Regions from separate parts of the Homo sapiens genome. Here all the other regions are linked to region 1. Evidence: fine-mapped expression QTL. A gene starts in region 1. Each other region holds a variant in brackets. All regions are shown on one strand. Distances are between the middles of the regions.

Region 1 (7,470 bases):
AGGTGGGTGGATCACTTGAGGTTAGGAGTTTGAGACCAACCTGGCCAACATGGTGAAACCCTGTCTCTACTAAAAATACAAAAATCAGCTGGGTGTGGTGGCGCATGCTTGTAATCCCAGCTACTCCGGAGGCTGAGGCAGGAGAATTGCTTGAGACAATTCCCCGGAGGCAGAGGTTGTTGTGAGCTGAAATCATGCCACTGCACTCCAGCCTGGGTGATACAGTGAGACTCCATCTCAAAAAAAAAAAAAAATCCCAGTTTCTTTCTTTTTTTTTTTTGAGACAGAGTTTCGCTCTTATTGCCCAGGCTGGAGTGCAATGACGCGATCTTGGCTCACTGCAACCTCCGCCTCTTGGGTTTAAGTGATTCTCCTGCCTCACCCTCCCAAGTAGCTGGGATTACAGGCATGCGCTGCCATGCTGGGCTAATTTTTGTATTTTTTTTTTTTTTTTTCAGTAGAGACGGGGTTTCTCCATGTTGGTCAGGCTGGTCCCAAACTCCCGACACCTGGTGATCCACCCGCCTTGGCCTCTCAAAGTGCTGGGATTATAGGCGTAAGCAAATCCCAGTTTCTGGGTCTGTTTACCCCAAAGCTCTCATTCTTGTTCATTCCATTGGGATGTTCTAGTTAAGTTGATTTTGCCTTGGTGAACCCAAAGTGGCCTCAGTGCACCTATCCTGCAGGTTGTGGAGCCCAAGGCTTACCAGTTATTGTACTTGGGGAGCTTTCGGATGAGGCCCTGCTGCTCCAGCAGGGTCAGTGTGGCAGTATTCTCAGCCTCAGTTCCATCACAGATGTGGATGCCCTCTGGTTGGCACAGGCGGGCACTGTGCTCTACAAAATCTCGAATGCCAGTGGGAAGCTGGCCCAGATCTCCACTAAGCACTCGCAGGGTCTGGATGCTACGGCATGATGGCCAGCCCAAGGGGCTCAGCCCATGCCAGTTAAGCCTATAGGAGAAACAGAGGCAATGAGCTAGTTGCTGTCATCGAGAGTGGACAAGGCAGGTGGTGGAGAGACAGAAAGCTTGGGCTGCAGCCTGCTAAAACATGTCTGCATGCAGGGACCATGAAGAGCAGGTTGCAGTTGGTGTGTGGGATGTGTTCAGGACACATGTATCTTGTAGCCTTTATGAGGCTTGAGGAGGGTGTCTCCTGCTCAGCGAGGGACAGATATGGCCAAATGAGCAAAAAAGGCACATGCCTGGCTGTGTGGAAGTATACATGTAGGCATGCTGATGTTACTGCCTGTGTAGCCCATGCCCATGTTTAACTGTTTAATCAACGTTTAGAAATAAGTAGGGAGATGGCTGGGCACGGTGGCTCATGCCTGTAATCCCAGCACTTTGGGAGGCTGAGGCAGGTGGATCATGAGGTCAGGAGATCAAGACCATACTGGGCAACATGGTGAAACCCCATCTACTAAAAATATAAAAATTAGCCGGATGTGGTGGCGTGTGCCTCTAGTCCCAGCTACTCAGGAGGCTGAGGCAGGAGAATCGCTTGAACCCGGGAGGTGGAGGTTGCAGTGAGCCGAGATCGGGACACTGCACTCCAACCTGGGCGACAGAGCAAGACTCTGTCTCAAAAAAAAAAAAAAAAAAAAAAAAAAAAGAAATGAGTAGGGGCCTTTGGCCCAAGTGTCAAGACAAGAAGTTGGGCCCAGGTGACAATTTCATATGTCTGGTATTTGAAGCCTCATCCATTTTATTTCCATTTTCAAGTATAGTTTTTTATAAATTAAAATGGCAGCTGTGTTTATTCTTTCCTTCTGGTGTGTATGCTGTAAGACTATGAAAGCCCCAAGCAAAGGTCACAGTCTTTCCAGTGCCAGGTTTCTAGATGAGGGCTCTTGCACAGAGAATAGGTGACTGGATGCTGGGCTTCCAGGCCCTGATCTGCTGCTGCCCACTTGGACCAACAATGGTTGCATAAAATGTTGCCCTCGGGTAAGTATTTCTGAACTCTGCGGAAGGTTGACCACTGGGGAATGAGTGTCACTGGCTGGGGTTCATGGGCTTAATTCTCAGGAGGTCAGCGTCCTGTTGTCTGTCCTCTCATGGCCCTGGGAGACAGAGAAGCAACGTCTGCTCTGATTGGCCTGGACTCAAGGTGGAGTAAACCCGAGAGAGCAAAGACCATGAAGGGGATGTTACTCTCCTCCTCTATCAAGGCCTCGCCCATCAGAAACTGCCCCCACACCCAGGACCACGTGACCCCGTGCTTCCCCTGGCTCTTCTTCCTAGAGGCCACATGCCTAGAGAGCTTTGGTGTTGGTGGGAGGGTGGAACAGCAGCTTGCTGGCAGCTCAGACTCAGAGGGTGTTAGCCTGGGGAAGGAAGAAAGCTCAGAGCATGGATACGGGAGCTTGAGTCTGTCTGGGGTAGAAGCTGGGGTGGTTTCCGCTAAAGCAGGATAGATGATCAGTGTGGCCCCAGGGGCAGGGGAGGAGGGCTACTGGGACCTGGGTCTGTTCCTGCCTCAGAGGGAAGTTCTCCGTGAGCATCAGTTTTCAAGCACACAGTCTTGAGGACAGCCTCTCTCTCCCTGGAGCCTGGCTCACGTTATCTCTTGTGAAGCCCCCACACCCTCTTGCAGCCCTCTAAGTGGGACGTTTCCTTCAGAGACCACCCACAAGGGCTGCCCAAGTGGAACGGGCTGTGCGACAGATGTGGGTCACTTCCGACTCTGGGACAAAAGCTGAGAAGAGAGGCCTCAGAGAATAAATAGGAGACTAAGAGGACAGGCAGACAAACAGGACGAGCCTGGGGGCTCCAGGCCTGGACGGAGGAAGAAGCCAGCTATGTAAGAAACGAAGGCAACTTGGCGCCCTCCTCCCACCTTGCTTGCCTCCCTCCCCTGGGCCCAGGTCCCTCGGGCTGCTCTGGACTTCCCGCCAGGTTCCAGTCCTTCCAGTCCGGGAGAGGCCGGGAATGGATATTTAACCTTCCACCTTCTTTAGGGGGCTCTGAGCTTAGTCTCCCGGGGCTCACGTACCCTTGTCCCCAGGGCCCTGCTGCCTCTCGAAGTACCCTGGGGCGCTGGCTGAGAGCCCGTTAGAGGTCCGAGGGAGGTATCTGGGAAGGAAAGGAGGATATGCGGAGACCTGGCTCAGCAGAGAGGAGCGAGGAGAGAGAGGAAGTTCTGAGAGTGGCAGATAGAGATCGCGCGGTCAGAGGCGAGCGAGGCAGAGAAGGGGAGGTGCAGGCGGAAACGAGGAGCACCGGCCGGCTGCCCTCCCAAGAGACGCGCGGCGCGGGAGGCTGGACCCACAGCAGTCGCCCCTGCCCGCCTCCGCCTAGGATGGGAAACCTGGCGGAGGCTGAGAGCAGGAGAGCGCCACTGGCAGCCCCGAGGGGGCGAGCGCAGCGGAAGGTGCGGGTGGGCCCCGGGCCGGGGGTCACTCACCGCAGGCCAGGGCGGTACAATGCGGCCATGGCACCTGGGCAGGGGCTGCGGGGTGGCCAGGAACCGAGCGGAGCCGGGGAGGTATGGAAGGCGGGGAAGGAGGGAGCGCGGCGAAGCGAGCCACAGCAGAGGCTGGCGGGAGGCGCTTAAAAAGGAGGGGGGCAGGCGCGGGGGCGGAACCTGGTAGGGCTGGCACTAGCTTTCCTCCGCCCCGCTGGCAGGCCAGCTCCCTCGGCCCCGGGGCTCCAGGCTCCAGGTCAGCCCAGCCGCCGCCCCAACCCCTGCCTCCAAACCGCCAAACCCATCTCTCCCATTGGAGGACTGGGTCCACTCTTCGGCCCCCGACTTCGAGGCCCCGCCCCCCATCCGCCACCGCCCTCCCAGCCGCACATGATGTAACTTTGAGGACTCTTGCTCCCGGGAGAGACACTAGGTGGCAAACAAGCTAGGAACGAGGGGCGAGGCCAGGGGCGGGAGACTACAGGGGCCAGACGTCTAGAAGTTAGGGGGTTGGGCATTGCCTTTCCAGTTCCTCCTCCTGGGGACGCGACACCCTGAGTCCTGGGCCTTTCTGTAGTCCAAGTGCCCAATGCTAAGGTCCACTTAGTCCCCAACTCCTAAATCCCCGTTTCTCCTCCTGATCAAGGCTCCTTTCTGCCTTGCCATGAAATGGTGGAGTCTCTCTACCCCTGGGTCTCTTCCTTGGTCCTCTGATCTGGTCATTCTCCTCCCCCGGCACATCCCCTCTTCCCCTGACGGAGTCTTACTCTGTCACCCAGGCTGGAGTGCGTGCAGTGGCGCGATCTCGGCTCACTGCACACTCCGCCTCCCGGGTTCAAGCAATTCTCCTGTCTCAACCTGCAGAGTAGCTGGAATTACAGGCGCCTGCCACCACACTCGGCTGATTTTTTGTATTTTTTGTAAAGACGGGGTTTCTCCATGCTGGCCAAGCTGGTCTCCAACTCCTGACCTCGTGATCCGCCTGCCTTGGCCTCCCAAAGTGCTGGAATTTACAGGCGTGAGCCACCACGCCCGGCCTGGTCATTCTTTCTCTCCACAATCCAATGAGGAAACTCATCTGCCCACCCAACTACCATCATAAAGTCCTCAGGTGATTTCTCAAGCTATACCTCCATTGGGACATCTCTCTCCAACCTGAGACCACTGGATATCACCCACAATGCTATATAGCACCTCAAACTCAGCATATCTATGATGGGTGTCTGCTCAGCATCCACTCGCCTTTTCTGGTAATAGCACCCTGATTTTCTTTTGGGGAACCATCTCCTCAGTCTGTATTGTCATGTGGGTCTGATGTCACCCCTCTTGGGGGTAGGCTTGCAGCTTAGCCAACTTTTGTGTTCCTCACTCTGGCCACAGCAATCAAGGATGTTCAAGGATGGGCATGAGATCCCTCTCTGGGACTTTTTCTAAAACTTTGGAAGTTAGCTCTCTTTCTGCTGAGTTGCTGAGCTGGTAGAATATAAGCCTGGAGCTGCTGAGTGTTAGCTTGGCACTGCAAAGCAGGAACCTGGCTGAGACAGAAGCCAGCCTAGAGGAAGCAGAGCAGGGAGATGGCGAGCAATGGATTCCTGATTTCAGTTACAGGAATTGATGCATTTCTTCTCTTGCTCAAGCTAATTTTAATTGGAGTTCTGCCACTTGCAACAGAAACAGTCTTGATTCTCAGATTTCTTGGAGTTCTATGCTGGAACATAGTGGGATAAGGAGAGCTGGTCTCCAGCCACGGGCTTGCTACTGGTCCCCGTCTCTTCCCCCTCAGGCTCTAGCCTACACTCAACCTCAGGTATATGTATTTGGATCTCTTTCCCCCCAGTTCATAGATCCAAACTCTGTCCACACTTACCCAGCTGCAAACACATACCTCTTGGCCAACCTTTGGGCCTAAAGGTGTGCACACTGGTGGCAGCATGGTTGACCTGAAGGTCATCATCTTCTCCATAATCCTGCACCTGCTCTCATGGTTTCCTACCTCAGCAAATGGCACCATCATCTGGCCAGTTGCCCCAAAGGGAATCAGTCTAGACTATTCTTATCCTGCATAGCTAATCAGATGCCAGGACCTTTGGAATTGTACTTCTCAATTAGCCCTCAAGTCTGCAACTATCCCCATGGCCAGGGCCTTAGTTCAGGGCTTATCTCTCACCTGGCTTCAGGTGATAGCTTCTAAGGCACTTCTTGGACTCCTGCCTCTCCAAACACCAACCCCTCTCCCTACCAAGCCACTCCCCACACTGTGCATGCAAATCCACTTGGAAAGTTAAGAGAGAAGAATAATGTTTATGCTATGGACAGTAGGTGCCAGGCTCTGTGTCAGCAACTCTGCATGCATAATCTCATTCTGTTTCACAACTATATTTTACATATGTGGACACGGGCTTAAAGAGTCATTTGCTCGGTCACCCTAAGGGAAGAATCAAGGAAAAAGGGAGGCAGGACCCCAGAAGTATGCCAACATATAACACCCTAAATCAAAGGTCAAATGCCGCACTTGACCTCCAAGATGCCTGCTTGGGCCTCTTCCAAGTGTACTTTCCTTTCTTTCATTCCTGCTCTAAAGCTTTTTAATAAACTTCCATTCCTGTTCTGAAAAAAAATTATTCATGAATATTTTATACTTTTATCCTATTATGAATGAAATGTTCTAATTGTTTACCACAAGTACATACAAATAAAATTGCTTTGTGTATATTGAAAAAAAAAAGAGTCATTTGCTCAAAGTCACACAAATGGTTAGCAGGAGAAATGGAATCTGAATCCATATCTTTCTGACTCTAATTACCAAGTCCCCCTCTCCCTATAAATCCTATACTGTCCCCTTGATTTACCATTAAAAATTAGATCATATCACTCTTAAGCTTAAAATCTCTTCCAGGCTCTTTCCATCACATGATATCTTATGTCCTTCATAATCTGACTCCTATTTATCTAATGTTGTCACCCCCACATCCCCACTTGCCTCCTTTTCTCCTACGTACTGAACTCTGAAGTTTCCAGAGCACTTCTGTGAACTTTTTCTGGGCATCTGCACTCAAATTAAACACACACCATCCTGGCCAACATGGTGAAACCCCGTCTCTACTAAAAATACAAAAATTAGCTTGGTGTGGTGGCGCACGCCGGTAGTCCCAGCTACTCAGGAGGCTGAGGCAGGAGAATCGCTTGAACCCGGGAGGCGGAGGTTGCAGTGAGCCGAGATCGCACCACTGCACTCCAGCCTGGGCAACACAGTGAGACTCTGTCTCTAACACACACACACACACACACACACACACACACACACACACACACACAGGCCTTTTCTGTTCGTCCCTTAGAATGAACATCTATTTCATCTGTGTTGCTTCTATCCCATGTATATGCCTATATTTTTGTACTTTACTATACTGTAGTTACTTTTATATCTCTGTAATCCTCACTAGAGTGATGATTTCAGTCTTGTTTTTCTCCTAGTTCCCAGCAGTACCTGGCCTATAACAGGCACTTAATAAAAGTTGGTTGAATAAAAGAATGAATGAGTGCCACGTTTCTGAATTCTTCTTCCCCACCATTACTTTCTTCTCTAGCTTTAGGCAGATGGAGCAAGGGGCTCACGTGCAGATTTCCTTGCACTGCTCATTTCCCCTTATCTGCCACACACTTTTCTTTAGTTCCCTGCCGGGAGAGCCTGGCCCACCAGCTGGCCCTATGTCCAAGGAGTACCACCAGGGGGCAGAGTGTGATCTGCATTGTCCTCTCTGGGGCCTCTGGGTTCATCCCTGAAGTCTCACAGCCCGAGTAGTGATGCTGTGGTGTGTAGCCCAGATTCCCGCTTCAGGATCATGATGCTCATTGTTCCAGCTGCTGAGTGTTGGCTGCTGATAGCTCACAGCTGAGTACTTCCTTGAGCACTATCTGTGGCCAAAGGGAGCTGTCTCACCAAATGCAATGCCCGCTTCCTGGGGGCAGTATGTATCCAATGAATGGTTGTTATAAAGTACAGAGGCCTAGCCCTTTGTCTCAGTTTGGGACAACTCTGAAGGTCCATCCCAGCCCCAGA
Region 2 (5,000 bases), 35 kb after region 1:
CTCTGACTTTAGCTCTGGGCTTAGGGCCTCAGTCAACACTAGGTTCCCACCATGGATTCCTCCCTCCTCCAGGACTTGCCTGCAGCTCCTTGTCCACAGCTTTGGACACCTCACTTGCTACTGATTCCAGCCTCTGCCGCACAGGCCCATCATTGGCCAGCACGTGGCCCAGCTCATAGAGGCTGGGAAACAGCTGGAGAAGGAAGGGGTTATGATTAGCAGGCCAGAACCAGGACTTGCTAGGTCTCTGGGGTCCCTGGGCTAGGAAGGCAGATGCACAGGGCAGGGCTGTCATGGCTTAGCATGGTCGGCCTTCTTGGGTTCTCCAGACTTCAGGGGAAGGGTAGCCTGTGGAGGGCTCACCGCCCGGGAGTTCTTGGCATCTTTGATGAGGTCCCGAGCGTAGAGTAGCTCATCCTGCACAGGCTCCAGGGGGCATAGTCTCAGGGCCCGCACCTCCTCCTGCACTCGTCCACACAGCCGCTGCAGCATCTGGAGCACAGTGGCAGGGGTGTCAAGGGGACCCCTGCTTCCACATCTTCGCAGGTAGGACCCCTTAGACAGTGCTACTGGTGCTGGCACCGACAGTGGTGGAGGTGATGTCTCTGGCTGGCCTGGTCCCCATTGCTACAGCCTTCTTGAATGCCCAGCTGAGCTCCCAGAGTCCTGTGCACTCCTGCTGTTCGCCCACATATGTTTGAAGCCCATATCCTGCATGTCCTCTCTTTTTGCTTCCCCACATGCTCAGTCCAGTGATAGGCACCATGCAGTGCCTCTTCATGCTCCCCCACTCAATTTTCCATCACATCACACTGTGCCCTGCATGCCCCGGGTATGCCCCGTGTCCCAGAGGGAAACGTTTACTTGCTCGGCGCTGCTGGTCACCAGGCCCTGCTGCAACCTGAAGGCCTGCTCCTGGGGGCACGTCTGGGAGTGGTTGTTCCTCACTAAGCACCATTGGATCTGGAGATGATGGGGTTGGTGGGTCAGGGCCTGGGGATGGGGGCTGCCCCCTGCCCCTTGCTGTGCCACCCTGCTTAGGACAGCACCCTGCACCTTCTGCCAGACGTCCTCGGTGCGCTCAGGCGCGCTGCGATAGGCTTGGGAGATGTCGCTCACGGGGAAGGACATGAAGCGCAGCGTGTGGTTGCTGTGGGACACAGGGGCACAGCTGGGTGGGAACAGGTGAGGATGGGAGGCCCCTGCCTCCTCTGTTGGTGAGCAGCCCTCCAGCCCCCTTGCTCATCATTTCTGTCTTCCATGGCCCTTCCTAAAATTTCTGTGCAAATAGGTCAAAGGGGCTAGGGTGGGGCAAGAGTAGTTCAGGCCTGATCCAGGCACAGGGAGGCTGGGGACTTGGATCAGGGCAGGACCATGGTCTACTCACCTCTCCAGGGCCCTTGCGATGTCCAGGAAGCCCAGGGCAGATGTATTGTTCCGATCCCATAGGATAGTTCTGGGGGGAGGGTAAGCACCAGTTTGGCACCTCTCCTCCTGGGTCCCTACTAGGGGCCAGGGACACAAACCTCTTGGGGCAATAAGGCTGACTCAGAGATGGTTCTGGGGCTGGGGGTCTTCTGGAAGCTGGGGTCCAGAGCATCAAGGAAAGCAGGGAGATTATGTACATATGGGGAGGGGCTGGGGCTCCAGGTCAGGGGGTCCCGGTGTGGGCCCCACCTGAGGGAGGAGTTTATCTGCAGGGCCTTAGACAGCATCTTGGCCCCGATGTCCTCCATGCCATTGCCGCTCAGATCCACCTTGGCCAGGCAGGTGTTGCTGCCCAGGGCATTGATGAGGATGCTGGTGCGAAGCTTCAGCCGGGAGTCTGCCACCGACAGTGACTGCAGGGACTGTGTGGGCAAGGGGCGGTTGGACCCAGTCCCCACAGCCTCCTCCGACTGCAGGTCCCCTCCCAGGCCCAGGCACTCACACAGTCCTCTTCCTGGATCAGCTGCACCAGCTTGTGGAGGATCTCCTCCAGGGTCCTGCAGGGAGGCGGGGCTCAGAGTAGGAGGGGAAGGGCTGGGGTCATGCTATTGGAGGAGGAGAGAGGTGGCCAGAGGTAATACGGTGAGCCAAGAGGATGGGTGAATGATGGGATGAGGGTCTGTGGGCATGGAAAGGGGGCCTCACTTGGCCTTGACATTGAAGTTCTTGCCCAAAAACAGGTGCTTGAGGGACTTGTTCTTGCCAAGTGCAGGCACCAGTGTCAGGAGGTCCGAGTCGAACCCTGGTGAGCAGATGGGAGAGGCCTGGCCTGGAGGCCTGAGGCTGACTGGTGTCCCATCAGGGCTGCTTCTGCATGCTCCAGGCCCCTGTTCTCCCCTGGCCCCAGGGAAGGGAGGAACCACTACTCACCATTGTCTGACAGATCCAGGCTGCCTACACAGGTGACAGCTCCCAGCTGCTCCTGCAAGGCTTGGGCTCCCGCTGAACGGAGCTGCAGGGACAAGGTGAGGTAGGGAAGGCAGGGGTTGGGGTGGGGGTAGGGCACCTTTAATGCTTAGGATATAGTAGTCACACCAGAACTCAAAGTCATGCCAGGATCTGGGTGTAAAATCAGGGAGACTCTTTCCCCACACCAGATCCTTCCCTAGAGCTGGCTTCCCTCCCTTCGGCCAGGAAGGCTGCTATTCCTAAGACAGCTTGCTCCTGC[C/T]CTCTGGTGGAAAAGTCTGGTATCTCCCACCCCAAAGCTTTAAGGGCAGAGATACTAGAGACTGAGAATGAATGGCCTCTGGAAAAGAGGCCAGACTGAGAGGGGAAAGTGGTGGTGTGGCCAGGTCAGGGGGTCGCAGAGGGTCAGCACAGAGGCTAGATGGAGCCAGGGTTTGACTTAGGTCTGAGAAATGCACATGGATCGGAGGCGGGCAGAGGGGTTGGGGACTGAGGGCTCACCTCGCAGCTGCTGAGATCCAGGTGCAGGTCACTGAGGTGACTGTTGAGGGAGAGGCCCTGAAGCAGCGCCCTGTGGGAGGGAGGTCAGCAGGCCCTCCTTTACCTCTTCCCGCTCCCCGTGGTTCCCTTGGATGCGCCCCCAACCCTGCACCCACCCGACCTGAGGGCCTCCAGGGGCAGCTTTGTGGCCGACAGATTGACGTGGCTCAGTGTGTAGGCGCTGCTGAAGAACTGCTTGAAGGCCGGCGGGGCCTCTCGACCCTTCCTGTGGAGAGACCCCTGGGGTCAGCGAGGGAGGGGGTTGGCCATGTCTTGCCCTGTCCTCCCTTCCCCCTCCTCTCCCACCTGTGGGAGCAGCTGTTGCGAGCCAGGTTGAGGTAGGTGAGGTGGGAGCAGCAGCCGTGGAGCAGGGCACCGAGAAGCTGTGGGGGGAGATATGGTGGGTCTCAGGGGAGCTGGAAGGGGGTAGGGGGTGGCAGGAAAGGACTCCCCCTCCCTCCCCATCGAGGTTCCTGGCTCTTCATTCTCTGTGGTCAGCCTGTGTGAGCTCCACTGGAGATGCCCACTCAGATTCTTGAAGTCTCTGTTTTCTCCCCTGTGGAACATGGGTCTACTCCCTGCCTGGCTTCCAGGGGCATGAAGCTGCTCACAGGCAGTGGATGTGTAAAGCCAGGGCCACCACTGACTCCTAAGGTGCCTTGTTCAAGTTAGGAAAAGCATCCATTCCCCTGGTGGAGCCAGGGTGCACAGCTGGGGAAGGGAGCAAGGGCTGGCTTTTAAGCACAGCAAGCACAAGCTTGTGACCTGGATAAAGTGCCACACAGGTATGAACTATGGACATTGCTTTATACTTCAGCTGAACCTGAAGTCATCTAGACAGCTCTGCCCGCCTGTGTACTCAGGGATAGGGGGTGAGACCGAGGCCCACTGTGGTCTTCCCCAAATCACCTCAGACTGGCTTCCCATCACCAACTCCTCACCAAGTCGATGACGCAGTCAGTTCCTGACAGGTCCAGGTGCACCAGGGCGTTGGGTTGGGCCAGGAAACTGTAGAGGGCCTGGAGTAGGAAGGAAGAGGGGTTGCAGGGGAAGGGATGATGGAGTCTCGCCACCCCCAGAGGCCATGGGGCAGAAGGCCTCCCAGCTCCTGAAGCTTAAGCATGCTTTCTGCAGGGGGCTGAGGCTGTTCTGAGGACTCACATTGGCCTCATCCGTGGCGAGGAGCCCAGGATTCTTGCTCAGGTCCAGGTATCGAAGGGAGCTGGCAAATGCTGGGTTTGCCCCGAAGGTCTGGCCGAGTGCCTGGAGCCCTGAGCACAGCGGGCACTGGGCTGGGTTGGCCCCTAGCCCCACCTCTTCCCCTCAGCACATAACTCTTCCCCTCTCCCCAAACGTGGCTCCTTTTCACTCTTCCATCCCTGAGGTGGTGTGTGAATGTGTGGGTGTACCTCTGGAGCTCAACACCCCAGGCAGCACCAGGGTAGGGTCAGAGGTCAGGGGTCCTTGGTGCGAGTACCTCGAGGGGAAATGGCAGTCTTGGCCAGGCACAGTTTGGTGAGGCCAGAGGGGAAGCAGAGGAGCTGCTGGCTCAGACTGAGAAAACCTGGGGAGTGGAGAGAGAAACGGGCCCAGTGAGGGGCAGGGCAGTGGGTGCAGGTGGCACAGAGTCAGGTTGGGGGCTCGAGTAGGGTACAGGCCTTGGGTCAAGGATGGAGGTGTCAGGGCAGGGGCTGGAATCAGGCTGGAGAGCTGCTGTTCAGACCTGGTTGGGCTCTGGGCTAGGACAGGGGTCTGCATTGGGATGGGGACAGGATTCAGGGCTGGGGCTCACCCTTGTCCTCGATGGGGTTGTGGGACAGAGTGAGGGCATGCAGCACACAGCTCCCGTTCTCCCCAAACACCCCGGCCAGCTTCTGGACAAAGTCCCTTCAGGGAAGGGGAGGAAGGATTTGTCCTGAGCTGAGCCCCAGGTCCCAGCCTCTGGGCTTCCCCTCCTCCTCTACCTGACTGCCTGGCTGGGGCTGCATGGTCAGAGGCCCCCACAACAGGGGAACAGCTCAGGGCCTGCCAGGGAGCTTGTCACCACTCCGGAGTACCTGGGGGCA
Region 3 (7,470 bases), 49 kb before region 1:
TCCCTCTGGCTGCCCCTCCCACTCGCTCTGATCTCTCTCCGTCCGCTACTTGCGGTCGAGCCTTCTTGGGGGAGCCCCGCCACTGAATACCCCCTTTGCCATACTCCCACCTCTCTTACCCCAACCCTGGACTTCCAGTTGGCCCTAGCTATAAGCCCCGCCCCTCTCCGAGGGACAGCCCCCGCTCCAGTCTCCGCGGTCCCACTTACCCTAGCCCCTCCCTCGGGCAGCCCCTGGACTGTGACCCAGCCAGCACCGCCTCTCCTAGTGGCAACTGGCTGGGAATGGCTGAGGGGCTACCTACTGCTTGCGGCCTGCCAGCGGGAGGAGGGGGGCGGAAAGAAGAAAGGGGGCGGGGTTGAGGGGGGCGGGCCTGGACCTGGGGAGTGAAAGCGAAAGCCCGGGCGACTAGCCGGGAGACCAGAGATCTAGCGACTGAAGCAGCATGGCCAAGCCGTGTGGGGTGCGCCTGAGCGGGGAAGCCCGCAAACAGGTAATGGGGAATCGGAGGCCAGGAAGGGGTCATAGAACCCTCTTGGGTGGAGGCCAAGCTGGGTGGTTCAGGGGACCAAGCAGTGCCAGAGAACTCCCCCAATCTCGCTAGTGCCTTCACTTCTCGGGGATTCCCAGATTCCTGCCTTCTGACTGCAGTGAGCAGGAGCTTCCAGGGAAAGCTAGTTTGTGGTGAGAAAGGCCTGAGCCACAGTTCGAGGGCACCCTGTTGTGGGTGGAAGCTTTTGACAACCCAGACCCTTAACCAACATCCGGGTACTGCTCTCTGTGTAGGTGGAGGTCTTCAGACAGAATCTTTTCCAGGAGGTAAGTCTCTGGATTTGAGCGATTTGACCCAGAATCTTGGACCAATACTTGAGGATAACAGCCTCTCAGAATGACCCCCCCAAGTCACCCTAGACTTAACCCTACTTCCCTTACCAAGCCTTCACCCAAAGTAACCCCGGAATTATTGATAGCTACCTTTAATCTGACCTTTCTTATGACTCTCCCGACTTCTGGCACTTCTCCCGTCTTTTGATGTGGAGGAAAAAAACCATGGCTTCCAAAGCAGGAATATCACAGTCCTAACCTTCGTTCTGCCATTTACCAGCTTGGGCAAGTCCTTTCATTTTCAGGTCTTCAGTTTCCTCATTTGCAAGTCTTGGACCCAGTGATTTCCAAAGGCCCTTCCAGTTCCATTTGTCAGACATCTCATTGAGCATATTCTGTGATTCCCCTCCCTTGCAATGTAACCCACAGGCTGAGGAATTCCTCTACAGATTCTTGCCACAGAAAATCATATACCTGAATCAGCTCTTGCAAGTGAGTAGTGTGGGCCCCTTCTGCCCCATCCTATGTCCTCTATCCCCTTTGCCCACCCTCTCTAGCTAACAACTGGATTCAGCATGCAGAGAATAGTTTCAAATAGTGGATTAGGAACATTAGGATGGCGTGAGGCATGAGCCTAGGTTGGGAGGCAGAGTGCAAGTGGGATGTATGGAGGGAAGGCTGTGACCTAGGATGAAGGGAAGAGGTTGGGCAGCCCTTGACAGTGAGCTCTGTGCAGGAGGACTCCCTCAATGTGGCTGACTTGACTTCCCTCCGGGCCCCACTGGACATCCCCATCCCAGACCCTCCACCCAAGGATGATGAGGTGAGGCACTCAGGGTGCAGGACTTGGACTATAAACCCAATGGAGAAGATAGCCCTTCAACCTCTGTGACTTTTCTAAAGCTACTTTCCCCCCTTTTTGCCTTAGATGGAAACAGATAAGCAGGAGAAGAAAGAAGGTAAGAGAGATAAGAGGTGACTAGGGAAGGGGTGATGGCACACTGACTACTGGATGAGAAAGGGCCTGAATCCCCTCTTTCTCACAGTCCATAAGTGTGGATTTCTCCCTGGGAATGAGAAAGTCCTGTCCCTGCTTGCCCTGGTTAAGCCAGAAGTCTGGACTCTCAAAGAGAAATGCATTCTGGTAAGCCTGGGAAATGGGGGAAGCAGAAAGAGAAGACACACAAGGTGAGGCCCTGGACTCCTCCGTAGATACAAGTCCTTCATACAGAGACCTAGTCCTGAAAAAGAAAACTTCCTTCTGTGCCTTGGGCTTAGATCCCCTTTGTTCTCCTCGTTCTGTTAGACCTCTCTTATCACAACGGTACCCCCAAAATTAGAGACTGTGCAGTATCCACTCTGTAACCTCAGAACCTACTGCTGTATTGGGTTCATAGTAGAGGTGGTATGATATAGTGAGTGAATTGTTTTAAAAGATTGGACCCTAGAGAGAGACTGCTTAGGTTCAAATCGTGATTCTATCAGTTACCTAGCTGGTAGCCTTAAGTAAGTCACTTAGACATTCTGTGACTCAGTTTTTTCATCTGTTAAATGGGTACAATAAATACATATCTCTGAAGGTTGCTGTGATGATTACATGAAATAAATACATGGCACAGTACCTGGTATGTAATAAGTACCCAATTAAATATAACTTTTTTTAGGAAGTGACAGTAATAGGAAGAACTCAGTATGTTTGTTGAATGATTCTTACATGATACCTCTTAACACAGGTGATTACATGGATCCAACACCTGATCCCCAAGATTGAAGATGGAAATGATTTTGGGGTAGCAATCCAGGTAAGAAAAGGGTAACTGAAGATACTTAGAGTGGGGAGAGCCTCAGGGGGTGAGCTAGACATGAACCAGGAGGAGGAGGAAGATAGTGTATGAAATGGGGAGGACATGAAGTGTTGTCTTTGCCTCCCGTGTCACCACAGGAGAAGGTGCTGGAGAGGGTGAATGCCGTCAAGACCAAAGTGGAAGCTTTCCAGACAACCATTTCCAAGTGAGGGCAGCTGGAGGACCAGCATTGGGGGCAGTAGGAGCATTTCTTTGGGACCCCCAGAGCTGGGCAGCCCTATCAGGATGATGGGAGACTTTGGGAAGGGTCTGAGGGAGTACATCTCCCTGAACACTCATTCCTGTGGTATTCCCTTGCTTCTGGCAGGTACTTCTCAGAACGTGGGGATGCTGTGGCCAAGGCCTCCAAGGAGACTCATGTAGTGAGTGGATAGTCCACCAGCCTTTTAGCTGGGTGTGGGACGAGGAGGTGTGGAGGAAGAAGTCCTCCTTGTCTTGTTTGTGACTTTCCCAATGTGGAGAATATTAAGCTAAAAGCATTACCTAGAAAAACTGGTTTGGGCTTCAACAACCTTGACCCTTTTCTCTGCTCAGTCCTTTGGGATCCTATTTCTTGGTGCTAAGAAGGGGTTCATTCTCAAGTTAACCTATTTCCTATAAAAGGAAACCAGACTCATGTCCCAGCCTCCCATGGGACTGACTCAGCTTTGCCTCCCACATTGCAGATGGATTACCGGGCCTTGGTGCATGAGCGAGATGAGGCAGCCTATGGGGAGCTCAGGGCCATGGTGCTGGACCTGAGGGCCTTCTATGTGAGTGTGGAGTAAGGCTTTAGGGGAGGTGGATGAGTGGGGGCAGGCAGGGGATTGGCTAAGAACCTGACTCTTGCACTCTGGCCTTCTCCCAGGCTGAGCTTTATCATATCATCAGCAGCAACCTGGAGAAAATTGTCAACCCAAAGGGTGAAGAAAAGCCATCTATGTACTGAACCCGGGACTAGAAGGAAAATAAATGATCTATATGTTGTGTGGATTCCCTTCTGGCGTGTGTCATTCATTCAAAAAGCATTTATTGAGTGGCACCTATGTCCAGCCTGAAGATGAATGTGGTGGGAAGGGGTGGGTGTCACAAAGACAAAGATGACTTAGATGCCCA[C/T]TGTAATCTTGACTGTGAGAAAGAGGGGATTCAGGCCCTTTCTCATCCAGTAGTCAATGTGCCATCTCCCCTTCCCTAGTCACCTCTTATCTCACTTACCTTCTTTCTTCTCCTGCTTATCTGTTTCCATCTAAGGCAAAAAGGGGGGAAAGTAGCTTTAGAAAAGTCACAGAGGTTGAAGGGCTATCTTCTCCATTGGGTTTATAGTCCAAGTCCTTCACCCTGAGTGCCTAGGGTGGGGATTGTTACATGCCATGGCAGCCATGCAGATAACCTGTATTTTGGAATGTAACAGTATTATTTTCATCCAGAGGTCTCAGGAATTATTGGAAGAGATGGCATTTGCACAGAGCCCTTATGGGAATAATCAGGCTTTGGATACACAAGGGGAAAGTTCTGTGGTCAACATCAGGAATGAAGAAAGAAAGAATCCTCATCAGTTCAGGAAAAGCCTAGAAGGAGAATAAGGTTTCACTGGGAGAACTATGGAGAACTACGGATGAATGATTGGACTCCCCCCACCCTTTTTTTTTTTTTTTTGAGATGGAGTCTTGCTCTGTTGCCCAGGCTGGAGTGCAATGGCACGATCTCAGCTTACTGCTACCTCCGTCTCCCGGGTTCAAGCAATTCTCCTGCCTCAGCCTCCCGAGTAGCTGGAATTACAGGCATGTGCCACCACACCTGGCTAATTTTTTTGTATTTTTAATAGAGACGGGGTTTCGCCATGTTGGCCAGGCTGGTCTCGAACTCCTGACCTCAGGCGATCCACCCACCTCGGCCTCCCAAAGTGCTGGGATTACAAGGCGTGAGCCACCGCGCCGGGCCTGGACTCCCTCCTTAAGGGCTAGGAGGGGAAAAAATAATGCTTCCAAGGCACTGTGGTGAAGGAAATACATCGCAGGACATTATGGGAAGGATGAATCTGTAAGTTTTTCTTACTGTCCTCCCCCATATCCCCTTCAGCCAATCACTGTCTTTATCTCTGCTTTTCAAGATTCAGCCCTGGGCTGGTGATAGAGACAAGGGTTCCTTTGCTGTGATCTTGCTGTAAACTCCATGGGATTGTTCTTTAATTCAGGGCCTTATCCTGTCATAAAATATGAGATAAGAATGTGCTGCGAAGCACTAGACTGGCTGGAAGCCTGCCCCCATACATATCTCATTAAATCCTTAAAGGAACACGGGCAAAAGATAAACCAAGGGCAAGAAAACCTGCAGTCGCGAAGGCAACACGGCCCATTAGTAAGTGACAGAGCCGATCTAGAGTACAGAGCCACTCAACCCATAATAGGCGCAAGGCGGTCTGCTTTGCCCGCAGCGCTCCGGAACACCCGGCTACGGGATAGCGATCCATCCTTGGGGCTCGGCGGAGCGAGTGGTAGTGGGCAACACAGGTAACAGGCAAAGCCAACCACCAACCGAGAGCGGAAGTCGGGGAACCTAGCCAATAAGAGTGCGGGCAATTTTCTGTGCTTCACAATGGTGGGTTCTTTCCAGTCCGCTGGAGACAAAGGCGGGGCAACGTTGGGGCGCGGCCGCTGATTGGACAAATTGAAAGCCTTTAGCCCTATCAAGGAGCACCACGTGGGCGGGACTCCAGGAGCCAGTTCTGCAGGGAGCTGCAGTTTGGTCTGTCTCCCAGGCAGGCGCAGAGTCGCGGCCGCCAGCTAGGGGCGCGGGAAGGCGGGGCTCGGATGCAATCGGGACCTCCTCCTGGACTGGGCCGGGGGCGGACTCCGGGACCCAGGGCGCCGGGAGCCGGCGGGCTACCTGCGAGTCGAGTTAGCGTTGTCGCCGAACCGAAGTGAGAGGGCACGGGGAAGGGTCAAAGAGCGTGCCGAAGCGCTGGAGGGAGCTTCACGGACGCGAGCTAGGCACCGGCTCGCCTAATCCGGTACTAATCCGGCTTGCTGCTTCCCGTCCAGGCCTCGCTCGCCATGGGGGAGGTGGAGATCTCGGCCCTGGCCTACGTGAAGATGTGCCTGCATGCTGCCCGGTACCCACACGCCGCAGTCAACGGGCTGTTTTTGGCGCCAGCGCCGCGGTCTGGAGAATGCCTGTGCCTCACCGACTGTGTGCCCCTCTTCCACAGCCACCTGGCCCTGTCCGTCATGTTGGAGGTCGCCCTCAACCAGGTGCCTCCGTTGGATGCCCATCCCCCACCGCGAACCCACCCAACACCCCAGCCCAAGTTCATCCCCGGTCCCTTGGCAGCAGTGCGCATCCACAAAGCCAGCGGCACAATTTAATTACTGATGGCCCCTTTCCTACGACAGGTGGATGTGTGGGGAGCACAGGCCGGTCTGGTGGTGGCTGGTTACTACCATGCCAATGCAGCTGTGAACGATCAGAGGTGAGTGGCGTAGCCAGAGGAAGAAGGAAAGGATTATGGCGGGTTGGGGATTGGAGGAATAGAGGGCGAGGATGCGTGGGGCGGTGGGCGGGGCGGGGGCGCACAAGATGAACCAAGGTCGTTCCTTTTATCTTTCCTTCATCAAACGCTTAGGAGCAGGGGCTTTACACCAGGCACTATGCTGGGTACTGGAGTGAGGGAATATAAAGATGAATAGGACAGAGCCCTGCCCTGGAGTGCCGTTGGGGCGGGGAGGACAACTGTGTATCAACAGACTGATTTTTTTTTTTTTTTTGAGACGGAGTCTCCCTCTGTCTCCCAGGCTGGAGTGCAGTGGCGCAATCTCGGCTCACTGGAACTTCCACCTCCTAGATTCAAGCGATTCTCCTGCCTCAGCCTCCCGAGTAGCTGGGATCACAGATGAGCGCCACCATGCCCGGCTAATTTTTTTTATTTTTTTAATTTATTATTATTTTTTATTTTTAGTAGAGATGGGGTTTCGCCATGTTGGCCAGGCTGGTCTAGAACTTGACCTCAGGTGATCCACGCGCCTCGGACTCCCAAAGTGCTGGGATTACAGGCGTGAGCCACCACTCTCGGCCAACAGACTGATCTTGCTTTAACTGAGGTGTCCCCCAGGGGCTGAAAGAACAGAGAAATCCCAACCAGCAACTTCAAAAATAAGGCAGTTTCCTTATATATATACATATAGGAAAAGACATATATATATATATATATATATTAATCATATACATGGAGCAATTAGAGGTACTGTTTTGTAATTTGCGTTTCTCCCTCACTTAATAAATACTTGACATCATCCCATTTCCACACCAAGATCTACCGTAACAGCTATATAGTCTGAATATGAATGTACTCTAATTTATTTAATACTTTAAACATTGAGGTTGTTTCCAGTGTTTTATTACAGACACTGTCCTATGATTACCATAAATTCTTTATAAGTAGAATTTCTGGGTCAGCATATGTATAGTATGTATACAGTTTCAATTTGGATGGTTATGCCAAATTACCTTCCAAAAAGACCACCTTTGGTTTCCACTCTCACCAGCAATATCTGAGCACCTGTCTCCCACAGCACTCAAGCATCAAGCAGTCGTGCATCAAGCATCCAGCAGGCCCGATCCCCGCAGGCCACCTACAGGGAAAGGCCACAGCTGCGCCCACACCTATGAGACCTGGGAGGCCCAGCTCAAATGGATGGGTTTTGCCCACAGTTGGCTCCTCACTCCTCTGATCTTCCCTCTACACAGCCCTGGGCCCCTGGCCTTGAAAATTGCTGGGCGAATTGCAGAATTCTTCCCTGATGCA

Evidence for each region. PIP is the estimated chance that this variant, and not a neighbour inherited with it, causes the effect.
Region 2: its variant is fine-mapped to the expression of PCK2 in whole blood (TOPMed, PIP above 0.99). The same link has a PIP of 0.9 or more in blood mononuclear cells, esophagus mucosa, esophagus muscle, gastroesophageal junction, lung and monocytes.
Region 3: its variant is fine-mapped to the expression of PCK2 in whole blood (INTERVAL, PIP above 0.99).

What each region holds. Positions count from the first base shown.
Region 1 is chr14:24,090,375-24,097,844 of GRCh38, reverse strand. PCK2 (phosphoenolpyruvate carboxykinase 2, mitochondrial) reads right to left here and starts at 3,534. Exons shown (of 10, transcript NM_004563.4): 1 at 3,411-3,534; 2 at 708-953. The coding sequence starts at 3,439. All of the region lies in intron 1 of NRL (neural retina leucine zipper), which reads left to right. RefSeq lists enhancers at 3,139-3,208, 2,862-3,511, 7,381-7,430 and a silencer at 3,519-3,768.
Region 2 is chr14:24,056,120-24,061,119 of GRCh38, reverse strand. It overlaps CARMIL3 (capping protein regulator and myosin 1 linker 3), which reads right to left. Exons shown (of 40, transcript NM_138360.4): 11 at 4,727-4,821; 12 at 4,412-4,498; 13 at 4,096-4,205; 14 at 3,876-3,953; 15 at 3,241-3,317; 16 at 3,056-3,160; 17 at 2,896-2,965; 18 at 2,359-2,440; 19 at 2,134-2,230; 20 at 1,931-1,985; 21 at 1,678-1,850; 22 at 1,388-1,456; 23 at 1,057-1,150; 24 at 865-963; 2 more. Among named protein-coding and RNA genes, the nearest start is that of CARMIL3, 6.6 kb to the right of the region's middle. The variant C/T (reference allele first, on the strand shown) is at 2,657.
Region 3 is chr14:24,139,557-24,147,026 of GRCh38, reverse strand. It overlaps EMC9 (ER membrane protein complex subunit 9), which reads left to right and starts at 5,436. Exons shown (of 6, transcript NM_016049.4): 1 at 5,436-5,589; 2 at 5,711-5,920; 3 at 6,062-6,138; 4 at 7,413-7,470. The coding sequence starts at 5,723. It overlaps PSME2 (proteasome activator subunit 2), which reads left to right and starts at 417. Exons shown (of 11, transcript NM_002818.3): 1 at 417-493; 2 at 787-819; 3 at 1,255-1,317; 4 at 1,562-1,648; 5 at 1,754-1,784; 6 at 1,872-1,969; 7 at 2,559-2,627; 8 at 2,768-2,835; 9 at 2,998-3,052; 10 at 3,356-3,442; 11 at 3,538-3,662. The coding sequence starts at 446. The coding sequence ends at 3,618. MIR7703 (microRNA 7703) reads left to right here and starts at 3,462; the gene lies at 3,462-3,538. It also overlaps a transcript of RNF31 not described here. RefSeq lists an enhancer at 1 and silencers at 312-371, 5,513-5,602. The variant C/T (reference allele first, on the strand shown) is at 3,786.